3 linked regions of the Homo sapiens genome follow. The protein of the gene in region 1 interacts with the protein of each later gene in a pairwise test. Each region holds a gene or a part of one and is shown in the gene's direction. Other genes may lie near its edges. The genes, in order: MRC2, PAX2 and PPM1D.

Region 1 (3,647 bases):
TGCCAGGGCGGGGGCATGGGCAAGCTGTCGGTGGCCCCGGGGAGGGTGCTGAGCCACTTCTTAATCCTGTACCCCCACAGGGCCCCCTCCTCCCCGAAGAATAAGCTACCATGGCAGCTGTCCCCAGGGACTGGCAGACTCCGCGTGGATTCCCTTCCGGGAGCACTGCTATTCTTTCCACATGGAGCTGCTGCTGGGCCACAAGGAGGCGCGACAGCGCTGCCAGAGAGGTGGGTGACCAGGCCAGAGCCCACACATGGCGGGCAGGTGGCACCTCCTCTCGTGGGCACTCAGACCCATGAGTACATCCCCACACTGCTCTCTACCCATAGGCAGCACTTACACAAGATGCCCTCGTGCTCTCACATGTGGAGACCATACATGACACTATATGTGCATATGCTGCCCCCCCACACACTTGCACATGTGCACACACACACACATGAATCCACAGACTCCACACCATCCTCTACTCAGGCTGCAGAGAAGAGGGCTGGAGCAGCTCTGGGGGACTCTGCCCCCCCCGGAGACCCATCCGCCCTGACGTGGGCCTTCTTTGCATCCAGCGGGTGGGGCCGTCCTGTCTATCCTGGATGAGATGGAGAATGTGTTTGTCTGGGAGCACCTGCAGAGCTATGAGGGCCAGAGTCGGGGCGCCTGGCTGGGCATGAACTTCAACCCCAAAGGTGGGTGCCCTGTGTGTGGGGTGGAGAGGTCAAGCCTCAGGCTGTAAGGGGCTGCCCTCCACTTTGCCCTGAGCCTTGTCCTGGGGCTTGTCGGGGGACAGGGAGTCGGTTCTAGAACACACCTGCTCTCCTCCACCTACTCCTGCCCCACCTTGTCCCTGCTCCCTCAGTGCCTTCTTTCCTGCAGGAGGCACTCTGGTCTGGCAGGACAACACAGCTGTGAACTACTCCAACTGGGGGCCCCCGGGCTTGGGCCCCAGCATGCTGAGCCACAACAGCTGCTACTGGATTCAGAGCAACAGCGGGCTATGGCGCCCCGGCGCTTGCACCAACATCACCATGGGTGTCGTCTGCAAGCTTCCTCGTGGTGAGCGCCGGGCAGGCCCACGCTCAGCCTCCTTCCACCCCGTGCCGCTGGTCCTGGGCTGGGGCTGGGGGCTGCTTCACAACTGCAGGGGGCACAGCCGATGGGAAGGCCTGAACAGAACGGACTGCGGGCAGCTGGGACCCCCGGGATAAATTAGTCAGTGGGATGGACTGGACCTGAAACTTATCATCCAAACTAGACCACAAGGCTCGGGGGTCAGCAACCCCCTGTCACTTTGTAGTGGTCAAGGGCATGGACAGAGTTCAAGTCCTGGCCATGTCACTTATCAGTGGTGTGACCTTGGGCAGAGTCTGTGGCCTCAGTTTCCTCGTATGTAAAATGGGAATAATAGTAGTTCCAGACTGATGTGGTGGCTCATGCCTGTAATCCCAGCACTTTGGGAGGCTGAGGTGGGCGGATCACTTGAGGTCAGGGGTTCAAGACCAGCCTGGCCAACATGGTGAAACCCCGTCTCTACCAAAAAGTACAAAAATTAGCTGGGCGTGGTAGCACATGCCTGTAGTCCCAGCTACTTAGGAGGCTGAGGCATGTGAATTGCTTCAACCGTGGAGGTGGAGGCTGCAGTGAGCCGAGATCGCACCACTGCATTCCAGCCTGGGCAACACAGCAAGACCCTGTCTCCAAAAAAAAAAAAAAAAAAAAAAAGTCCCGACCTCCTAGAGTGCTAGTGAAGCTAGTAAAGATGAGGTGAGTTAGGGAAGGGGCTGACACCCAGGCCTCCCACGAGGGCTGGGCTGAGACCTAGCTGAGTGCAGCATGGCGTTTTCCCTTTCTGGGGGAACCTGAAGTCTTGTCTCTTGGGCCTGTGCCCCCACAGTAACCAGAGGTAGGATGGGAGGGGGAACTAGAGCCTCTTTCTCCCCAGACCTCCCGGCCCAGGCCTGTGTGCTTTGTATGTTTACTTAAGTGATTATTACGATGATCACTGCTATTATTAACTGGCCCCCTCCTCTTGCCCACAGCTGAGCAGAGCAGCTTCTCCCCATCAGGTGAGTGAAAGGCAATGCCCCCAGGTGGGCAGGCAGGAAGCACTGCTGGGCCTAACGCCCACTTGGCCTTTCACGCCCACTCGCCTTGGCAGCGCTTCCAGAGAACCCAGCGGCCCTGGTGGTGGTGCTGATGGCGGTGCTGCTGCTCCTGGCCTTGCTGACCGCAGCCCTCATCCTTTACCGGAGGCGCCAGAGCATCGAGCGCGGGGCCTTTGAGGGTGCCCGCTACAGCCGCAGCAGCTCCAGCCCCACCGAGGCCACTGAGAAGAACATCCTGGTGTCAGACATGGAAATGAATGAGCAACAAGAATAGAGCCAGGCGCGTGGGCAGGGCCAGGGCGGGAGGAGCTGGGGAGCTGGGGCCCTGGGTCAGTCTGGCCCCCCACCAGCTGCCTGTCCAGTTGGCCTATGGAAGGGTGCCCTTGGGAGTCGCTGTTGGGAGCCGGAGCTGGGCAGAGCCTGGGCTGGTGGGGTGCCACCCTCCCACAAGGGCTGGGCTGAGACCCAGCTGAGTGCAGCGTGGCGTTTCCCTTTCTGGGGGGGCCTGAGGTCTTGTCACCTGGTCCTGTGCCCCCACAGGAACCAGAGGTAGGATGGGAGGGGGAACGAGAGCCTCTTTCTCCCCAGAGCCCCCGGCCCAGGCCTGTTGATCCGCGCCCCAGGACCCCCTTCTTTGCAGAGCCCGAGGAGCCTCCCCTGTCCCCTCGGGCAGATCTGTTGTGTCTCTCTTCCCACCTGGCAGCCTCAGCTCTGTGCCCCTCACCCTGCTCCCTCTCGCCCCTTCTCTCCCACCCCTTCCTTCTGAGCCGGGCCCTGGGGATTGGGGAGCCCTCTTGTTCCTGATGAGGGTCAGCTGAGGGGGCTGAGCATCCATCACTCCTGTGCCTGCTGGGGTGGCTGTGGGGCGTGGCAGGAGGGGCCTAGGTGGGTTGGGCCTGAGAACCAGGGCACGGGTGTGGTGTCTGCTGGGCTGGAGATAAGACTGGGGAGAGACACCCCAACCTCCCAGGGTGGGAGCTGGGCCGGGCTGGGATGTCATCTCCTGCCGGGCGGGGGAGGGCTCTGCCCCTGGAAGAGTCCCCTGTGGGGACCAAAATAAGTTCCCTAACATCTCCAGCTCCTGGCTCTGGTTTGGAGCAAGGGGAAGGGTTGCCAGAGTCCTGGGGGCCCCAGAGGAGCAGGAGTCTGGGAGGGCCCAGAGTTCACCCTCTAGTGGATCCAGGAGGAGCAGCACCCGAGCCCTGGAGTGGCCCAGTACCCTTCCAAGAGGCCACAGTCCCAGCCAGGACAAAGTATGCGGCCCATCCTGGTGCGACAGCGTGGGACAATGTGAACATGGACTCGAAGACATGGCCCTTTCTCTGTAGTTGATTTTTTAAATGTGCCATTATTGTTTTTAAAAAAAAAGGAAAAAAGAAAAGCAAACAAATAAAACACCTTTAAGAGGCTTGAAAGAGAAGGTTCTGCCTTGTCCTGTGGTGAGCCTGCTTCTTCACGTCTGTCCCTTCGGAGATAACTGTTGTTTTGGAGCTTGCACCACAGGTGTTTTCTGCAGCTGGCCATTTTGCGTCTGTCTCTGGGCCT
Region 2 (3,647 bases), on another chromosome or scaffold:
GGGAGGGGAGAGAAATGAGGGGGGCACAGATGTCCCCGCTTTCTCCGAAACTCGCGTGAGGCTAGCGGGGCAGGGGCTGCAGCTTGCCAGTCCGGGCCGACCCGACTCGGCCGCTAGAAGTCTCTGCGCTTGGATTGCTCAGTACCTGCGGCTACGGGTTGATCGCTCTGGGTGCAGGATTTCTAGACTGCTGTAGGCCAGGGAGAATGGGGCACAGGAAGCACCCTCAGGCCTGGCACCCAGTGGCCGCCTCGGTTCCGAGATCGGGAGCCCGCGCTGGAGCCGGGTTGGAAACCCCGTGCCCTTCTCTTGGCCGAAAGAGCAAAAGCCCGAGCCGCTCGGTTTCCTGGGGGGGCTGCCGAGGTCTGAGGGGTCAAAGGGACTCGAGTCGGGTTTGGGTCGGCTACACAGGGCGCCCCGAGAGTTATTAACTCGCCAGCGAGGCCTATGCCGTGCCACCTGGGCGAGACGGTGGGCCCCAACCAGGCTCTGCGAGGCGCGGCAGGCAGGCGAGCCCAAGCAGCCGGCATTCTCTGCCTGCTGCCTGGAGCCGCTCTGCCTCCCTGTCTCTGAGCGCAGCAGACCCCGGGCCCCTGCCTCATCCGCCTTCCTTGCTCTACTTCAGATACTAAGGAGGTGAAAGAGAGATACGGTCCCCCTACAGATAAATAACATTAGAAAAACTTCCCATCAAAAACAAACAACACAGGAAAGAGGTAGAAAAATTCCGATTACAATTTAATACTTTTTAAAGAAGAGGCAGAGAGCAAAGGGGGGTGTGTGTGTCAGGCACTTATCCCCTGTCTGTGCTAGGAGCTCGGATAAACAGTCAGCCGAGCCTCGACGCCCCCAAATCGTCCGCCTCCAAGCCCCGCACGCGCGGACAGCTCCCGGGTTGCCTGCGGCGCAGGCGGGATGCTGCTTCGCACTAGTCCAGTCCTCTGCCAGGCCCTTCCTCTCCTCGCTTTCTTACGCCCTTTCCGCTGGCATGAATTCCCCTTTGGCATTTTCTCCCCTCTCCCCTCTTTTCTGTCATCTGGTTTCTCTCCAGTCCCCCCTTTGCTTTCTACCTTGCGTCGCAAGGCCTGAGTCGCCCTCTCGCCCAGCCCCCAGTCTTCAGCCCAGCGTCTGTGCTTCCAGTCCCCACTCCTCCGCGTGGTCGTGGAGGTCCACCACCTTTCTTCTCAAGCTCGGGAACATGCCCTTCCGCCCTGCCTGCTTCCTTCGCCCGTCCCGGGCCGCGGACCCTGACTAATGGCCGGTCCCTGCTGTGTGTGGGGTGTTGTGTTTTTTTCTTGTCTCTCCCCAGCAGGGCACGGGGGTGTGAACCAGCTCGGGGGGGTGTTTGTGAACGGCCGGCCCCTACCCGACGTGGTGAGGCAGCGCATCGTGGAGCTGGCCCACCAGGGTGTGCGGCCCTGTGACATCTCCCGGCAGCTGCGGGTCAGCCACGGCTGTGTCAGCAAAATCCTGGGCAGGTGAGGGCTTCGCAGCTGTCCCGGGAGACGCCTTGCCTACTTCCCCGGCCAGCCCTGGGTCTCCAGCTGGAGGACGTGGCTAAAAGTCCAGCGTGCCAAGCCAGAGAGGGAGATCCCCAAAGGGGTCTGGAGAGGTGCTCCTTTTGGAGAGAGTGTTCAGATGGTGGCTGAAGACCCAGGAGCGAGGGTGGCGCAGTGTCACCCAGTGCTTGCCCTGCCCCTGGTCCCTGGTGAGAAGGCAGCCCGTTTCTGGCTTCAGAAAGGGAAGGATGACTTTCCTAATGGAGTTAAGGCAGATACGGGGTGGGAGACATTAGAGGAATGGGGGGGGAGTGAAAATGGGTCCCCGAGAGGAGAAGCAGCAGCATTTGGGAGGCAGAAGGAGGGTCCTGGTTCCCACAGATGCTCTGTGCCCAGTAGGAAAGGGCTCGAGGTGGTGCCTCAACCCTGGCCTCCCAGAGACCTTGCAGCGCTGTTCGTTTTGCTCTTCCCAAGTGAAAGGCTGGGCTTTCACTCCCACGGGTGCCTATTTGGGCTGGTGCGAACCCAGCCCCTGGTGTGGCCGTCTCCCTGGAGGGATGGTACCCCTTGTCCTCCTACTCCGCGGCGCTCCTCCTAGCCAGGCACCCTCAGGAAGTCAGCTCAGCCACACTGGGCCTTTTCCCTCCACTCCGCTGCCTCGGCCGGGCAGGAGAGTGGCTCAGCAGCTCTGGAACCTGCAGCCCCCCTGCCCCGCCACAGTCCGCTTCTGGCTGACCCCGCCGGCTTTCCCGGCGCAGGTACTACGAGACCGGCAGCATCAAGCCGGGTGTGATCGGTGGCTCCAAGCCCAAAGTGGCGACGCCCAAAGTGGTGGACAAGATTGCTGAATACAAACGACAGAACCCGACTATGTTCGCCTGGGAGATTCGAGACCGGCTCCTGGCCGAGGGCATCTGTGACAATGACACAGTGCCCAGCGTCTCTTCCATCAACAGGTGAGCAAGCCACCCGGGTTTTCAGGGCTGGACTCCAGCTCCTGGCTCCTGCCTGCAGGGGTGTCCCACGCCCAGTCTCTGCTCTTTGTCCAGCCTCTGCCCTTTCTCCCTGCTTCCAGCCCCAAATCCTTCTGTCAGAGAAAGGGAACCTGTGAGGCAGAGAGTTAGACAGACAGACAGGGCTGTCTGCAGTTCAGGGCTGGGTATTCCCTGCCAGGCTTCTCCCGCCGGCGTCCTGGAAATGAATCCAAGTGTTTGTGGTAATTAAGACTCCAAGATTACGAGCATCCAGCCTTGGGATCTTGAGACAATCACAGCCTGCAGCCGGAGCCTTTAAAATGACCAGTGTCTATTCATCCCTCCAAACAGACTGGCCTTTCTAAAGGCTGCTCCTTCCCCAGGGGCCGCCGCTTGTCCTGGCTCCCTCACCCTCCCTGCCAACTCCCACAAAGCTCACCTCCCAGGAGTCTGGTCTTGCTAGCCAGCTCCACACAAATTTCTGGCCTGTAGGCACTGGGATCCGGGCTTGCAGAACAAATGCCAACCACCAGCCAGCAACTGGCAGGGAGTAGAGGAGCTGGACAAGGAGGGAGTGCCAAGCAGGGAGGGAGAACTCCAGACTTTGAGACTGAACCTTGGGTGATACCCTCAACCACCTAAGGTGCCTGTCTCCAGGCTGAAGTCTTTGCACTGATGACAGGCTCACACACGTGAGGACAGCACAGGGCTGAGTCAGCTTGACGTGTAGGATATTTAGGTCTCCTGGTCTCCAAACCCCTCCAGTGTGCTCTCGGGGAGAACACATGTGCACACTCCATGCATGTCCACCCTAGCCAGTGTGCCAATATGCCTATCTGTGGTAGCTACAGAACATACAAGCAGCACTGGGCTCAGGAACCCAGGCTGGTTTCAAGATCACAGAACTGTACAAACTGACAGTTGTTCACAGAGTCCCTGCACAAGTCACACACCAGCCTTGGCCCCCCATTTTGAGACACCCCAAAATGAAAAGAGGGCTAAGCAGTTCATACCTTTGTTATTTTTTGCATTCTTCATAAGCTCATTATCAGGGCAACTAATAATTCACATGGTGCCTTATTCTGAAATTGGCATCACATATAAAGGATTTTTTAAATATTTTGCAAATGATATGGAATTATCCCAAATCATCCTGAAAACAGCAGGTAAAATT
Region 3 (3,647 bases), 2.1 Mb from region 1:
TATTTGGTGTTAAGCTTGACCTCTCTTGTCTTTCTAATGATGTGTACGCCTCCCAAATTTACAAAGGAAAATTTTTTAAATGGCTTATTTTTGTCTTGAGGTAGGGAGATTTGGTAAATACAGTATGGAATGAAAGAGTATATAAATATATTCTTTTTTTGTGTGTGTGACAGGGTCTTGCTCTGTTGTCCAGGCTGGAGTGTAATGGCATGATCAAAGGTCCCTGCAGCCTTGACTTCCTTGGCTCAAGGGATCCTCCTGCCTCAGCCTCTGAAGTAGCTGAGACTACAGGCATGTGCCTGCAAAGTAGCTGAGACTACAGGCATGCGCCCAGCTAATTTTTTTTTTTAATTTTTTTTTTTTATAGAGACAGGGTCTTGCCATGTTGCCCAGGGTGGTTCCTTACCCTGGGTTCAAGAAGTCTTCCCAGCTTGGCCTCCCAAAATGCTGTTATTACAGGCATAAGCCACCACATCCAGGCCTGAATATATTCTTTATTAAAAGGTCATTATTTTTCTTTTTTCTTTATTCATGATCATAAGTTTTAGGTTATGCCTAATTTATACTCACATATATATGTTTACTGCCCTTTTATTATGCTTGCCTTCTAAGAAATAAGTTTTTTTGTTTGTTTTGTTTTGTTTTATTTTTGAGACGGAGTTTTGCTCTTGTTGCCCAGGCTGGAGTGCAATGGTGCGATCTCAGCTCACTGCAACCTCCACCTCCCGGGTTCAAGCGATTCTCCTGCCTCAGCTTCCCGAGTAACTGGGATTACACGCATGTGCCACCACACTCAGCTAATTTTGTATTTTCAGTAGAAAAGAAGTGAGACTCTGTCTCTGGGGTTTCTCCATGTTGGTCAGGCTGGTCTTGAACTCCCGACCTCAAGTGATCCACCTGCCTCAGGCTCCCAAAGTGTTGGGATTACAGGCGTGAGCCACCGCACCTGGCAAAAATAAGTTTTAAAGTTTGTATAGGCTTTTTTAGGTTTACTTATTGGAAATAATGTTTTCATTGTCCCTTCTTTTGATAGTTTAAAGAAGATGGTGAATGAAGTGCAGCTTTTAGCTCTGTGTCATAGTCTTATCAATAGAGTCAATAGAAAGATGACATTCTGCAAAGGGTGATCTCTGGTGTGATTACAGGGAATTGGCCACAGTATTTGTAAAGGAAGATGAAATACAAAAGTTTCATTTGTTAACTTGGACTGAAGATTTAGAGCATTCATTTTAAAAGAGTATGACCAAGGAAATCGTGAAGAAGTTAATCTTAACATAAATTGTTGGTTCTAGATTTGGCATTACTTTAATTTAAAATGGAAAGAAACCAAAGTGGGGAGAGAGAATTGAATTTGGAGAAACCTCTTAAACTATAGAATTTTAAATGTGTATCTTGTTTTATGTTGGTTGTTCGCATTTTTTCATCATAAAGGATCTTCACCTTCTCATAAATTATACGTTCTGAAAGAGTTGTGTGCCATATTACTTATCAAGTTCAAATTTATTTTTTCTATTTTCATTATCAGTCATTACTTTTGATCCTTATTAGGTAGTCTCTCCAGAATTGATATCACTTAGAGAAATAGAAGCAATTTAAATTCTCATTAGTTTCTACATTATGCAGGTAAAACTAGATTTCTTTGCATCTTTATATTATGAAATATTCAAAAAGATGTAAAATGATTAAACAAACACCCATCCATAACTCAGCTTAAAAAATAAAACATTACCAGGCCGGGCATGGTGGCTCACGCCTGTAATCCCAGCACTTTGGGAGGCCGAGGCAGGCAGATCATGAGGTCAAGAACCTGATGAAACCCAGTTTTTACTAAAAATACAAAAAATTAGCTGGGTGTGGTGGCATGCGCTGGTAGTCCCAGCTACAGTGAGCTGAGATCAACGACACTGCACTCCAGCCTGGCAACAGAGCGAGATTCTGTCTCAACAATAAATAAATAAATAAAATAATAAAACATTACCAGTATAGTTAAGCCCCTTCTCTCTGTGTCATATTACATCTTTTTCACTCCCCATGAGGGGCAACTGCTTCTATATTCAGTGTTTATCATCCTCACTATTTTTTTTATAATTTTATTAGGTATATCTTTTTTTTTTTTTGACACAGAGTCTCGCTCTGTCGCCCAGGCTGGAGTGCAGTGGCGCTATCTTGGCTCACTGCAAGCTCTGCCTCCTGGGTTCACACCATTCTCCTGCCTCAGCCTCCCGAGTGGCTGGGACTACAGGCGCCCGCCACCACGCCCGGCTAATTTTTTGTATTTTTAGTAGAGACGGGGTTTCACCGTGTTAGCCAGGATGGTCTCGATCTCCTGACCTCGTGATGTGCCCTCCTCGGCCTCCCAAAGTGCTGGGATTACAGGCGTGAGCCACCGCGCCCGGCCTTTATTATGTATATCTTTAACCAATATACAGTACATTTTGTATTTTGTTTGTTTGTTTGTTTTTTAAGACAGAGTCTTGCTTAATCTCCCGGGCTGGAGTGCAATGGCGTGATCTCGGCTCACCGCAACCTCCGCCTCCTGGATTCAAGCGATTCTCCTACCTCAGCCTCCCCAGTAGCTGGAATTACAGGCGCGCACTACCACGCCCAGCTAATTTTTTGTATTTTTAGTAGAGATGGGGTTTCACCATGTTGGCCAGGCTGGTCTCGAACTCCTGACCTCGTGATCCACCCGCCTTGGCCTCCCAAAGTGCTAGGATTACAGGTGTGAGCCACCGTGCCCAGCCTGCATGGTTTTTATAACTTATATATGACATCTTACTATATGTATGCTATTGTCATCCCTTATGTGTTGGTTTCACTTTCTGCAGTTTGTTAACTTTGTTCAATGTTGAAATATTAAATATAAAATTCTAGAAATAAACAATTTGTAAGTTTAACTTGTGTGCTGTTGGGAGTAGCATGATGAAATCTTGTCTCGTCCCACTGTGTCAGCCCTGGATGTTAATCATTTCTTTGCCCAGCATATCTACGCTGTATATGCTACCTACCTGTTAGTCACTTAGTAGCTTGTTAGTCACTTAGTAGCCATCTTGGGTGTGGTTATCGGATCAACTCTTATGGTATTGCAGTGTTTATGTTCAAGTGACTCTTATTTTACTTAATAATGGACCCAAAGAGCAAGAGTAGTAATGCTGGCATATTGTTATACTTGTTTTATTTTATTAATGTTGTTAATTTCTTACTGTGCCTAATTTATAAATTACATTTTATCATAGATACGTATGTATAGGAGCCAAGCACGGTGGCTCACGCCTGTAATCCCAGCCCTTTGGGAGGCAGAGGTGGGCGGATCATGAGGTCAGGAGATCAAGACCATCCTGGCCAACATGGTGAAACCCTGTCTCTACTAAAATACAAAAAACTAGCCGGGCATGGTGGTGCGCACCTGTAGTCGCAGCTACTCAGGCGGCTGAGGCAGGGGAATTGCTTGAACCTGGGAGGTGGAGATTGCAGTGAGCCGAGATCGTGCCACTGCACTCCAACCTAGCAATAGAGTGAGACTGTCTCAAAAAAAAAAAAAAAAAAGATATGTATGTACGTATAGGAAAAAACATAGTGTATATAGGATTTGGTACTATCCAAAGTTTCAGGCATCCTTTGGGGGTTTTGGAACATATGCCCCTGCG

What was found.
Region 2: the proteins of MRC2 (region 1) and PAX2 interact in a two-hybrid assay, tested with the Homo sapiens proteins (one large-scale study listed by BioGRID and IntAct).
Region 3: the proteins of MRC2 (region 1) and PPM1D interact in a two-hybrid assay, tested with the Homo sapiens proteins (one large-scale study listed by BioGRID and IntAct).

The regions. Positions count from the first base shown.
Region 1 is NC_000017.11:62,690,076-62,693,722, forward strand, and holds the end of MRC2 (C-type mannose receptor 2 precursor), read left to right. Parts: intron 1-80; coding exon 81-230; intron 231-566; coding exon 567-686; intron 687-873; coding exon 874-1,053; intron 1,054-2,036; coding exon 2,037-2,063; intron 2,064-2,155; coding exon 2,156-2,376; 3' UTR 2,377-3,522; downstream 3,523-3,647. UniProt on the Homo sapiens protein: May play a role as endocytotic lectin receptor displaying calcium-dependent lectin activity. Internalizes glycosylated ligands from the extracellular space for release in an endosomal compartment via clathrin-mediated endocytosis.
Region 2 is NC_000010.11:100,748,437-100,752,083, forward strand, and holds part of PAX2 (paired box protein Pax-2), read left to right. Parts: intron 1-1,309; coding exon 1,310-1,478; intron 1,479-2,257; coding exon 2,258-2,455; intron 2,456-3,647. UniProt on the Homo sapiens protein: Transcription factor that may have a role in kidney cell differentiation. Has a critical role in the development of the urogenital tract, the eyes, and the CNS.
Region 3 is NC_000017.11:60,606,649-60,610,295, forward strand, and holds part of PPM1D (protein phosphatase 1D), read left to right. Parts: intron 1-3,647. UniProt on the Homo sapiens protein: Involved in the negative regulation of p53 expression. Required for the relief of p53-dependent checkpoint mediated cell cycle arrest.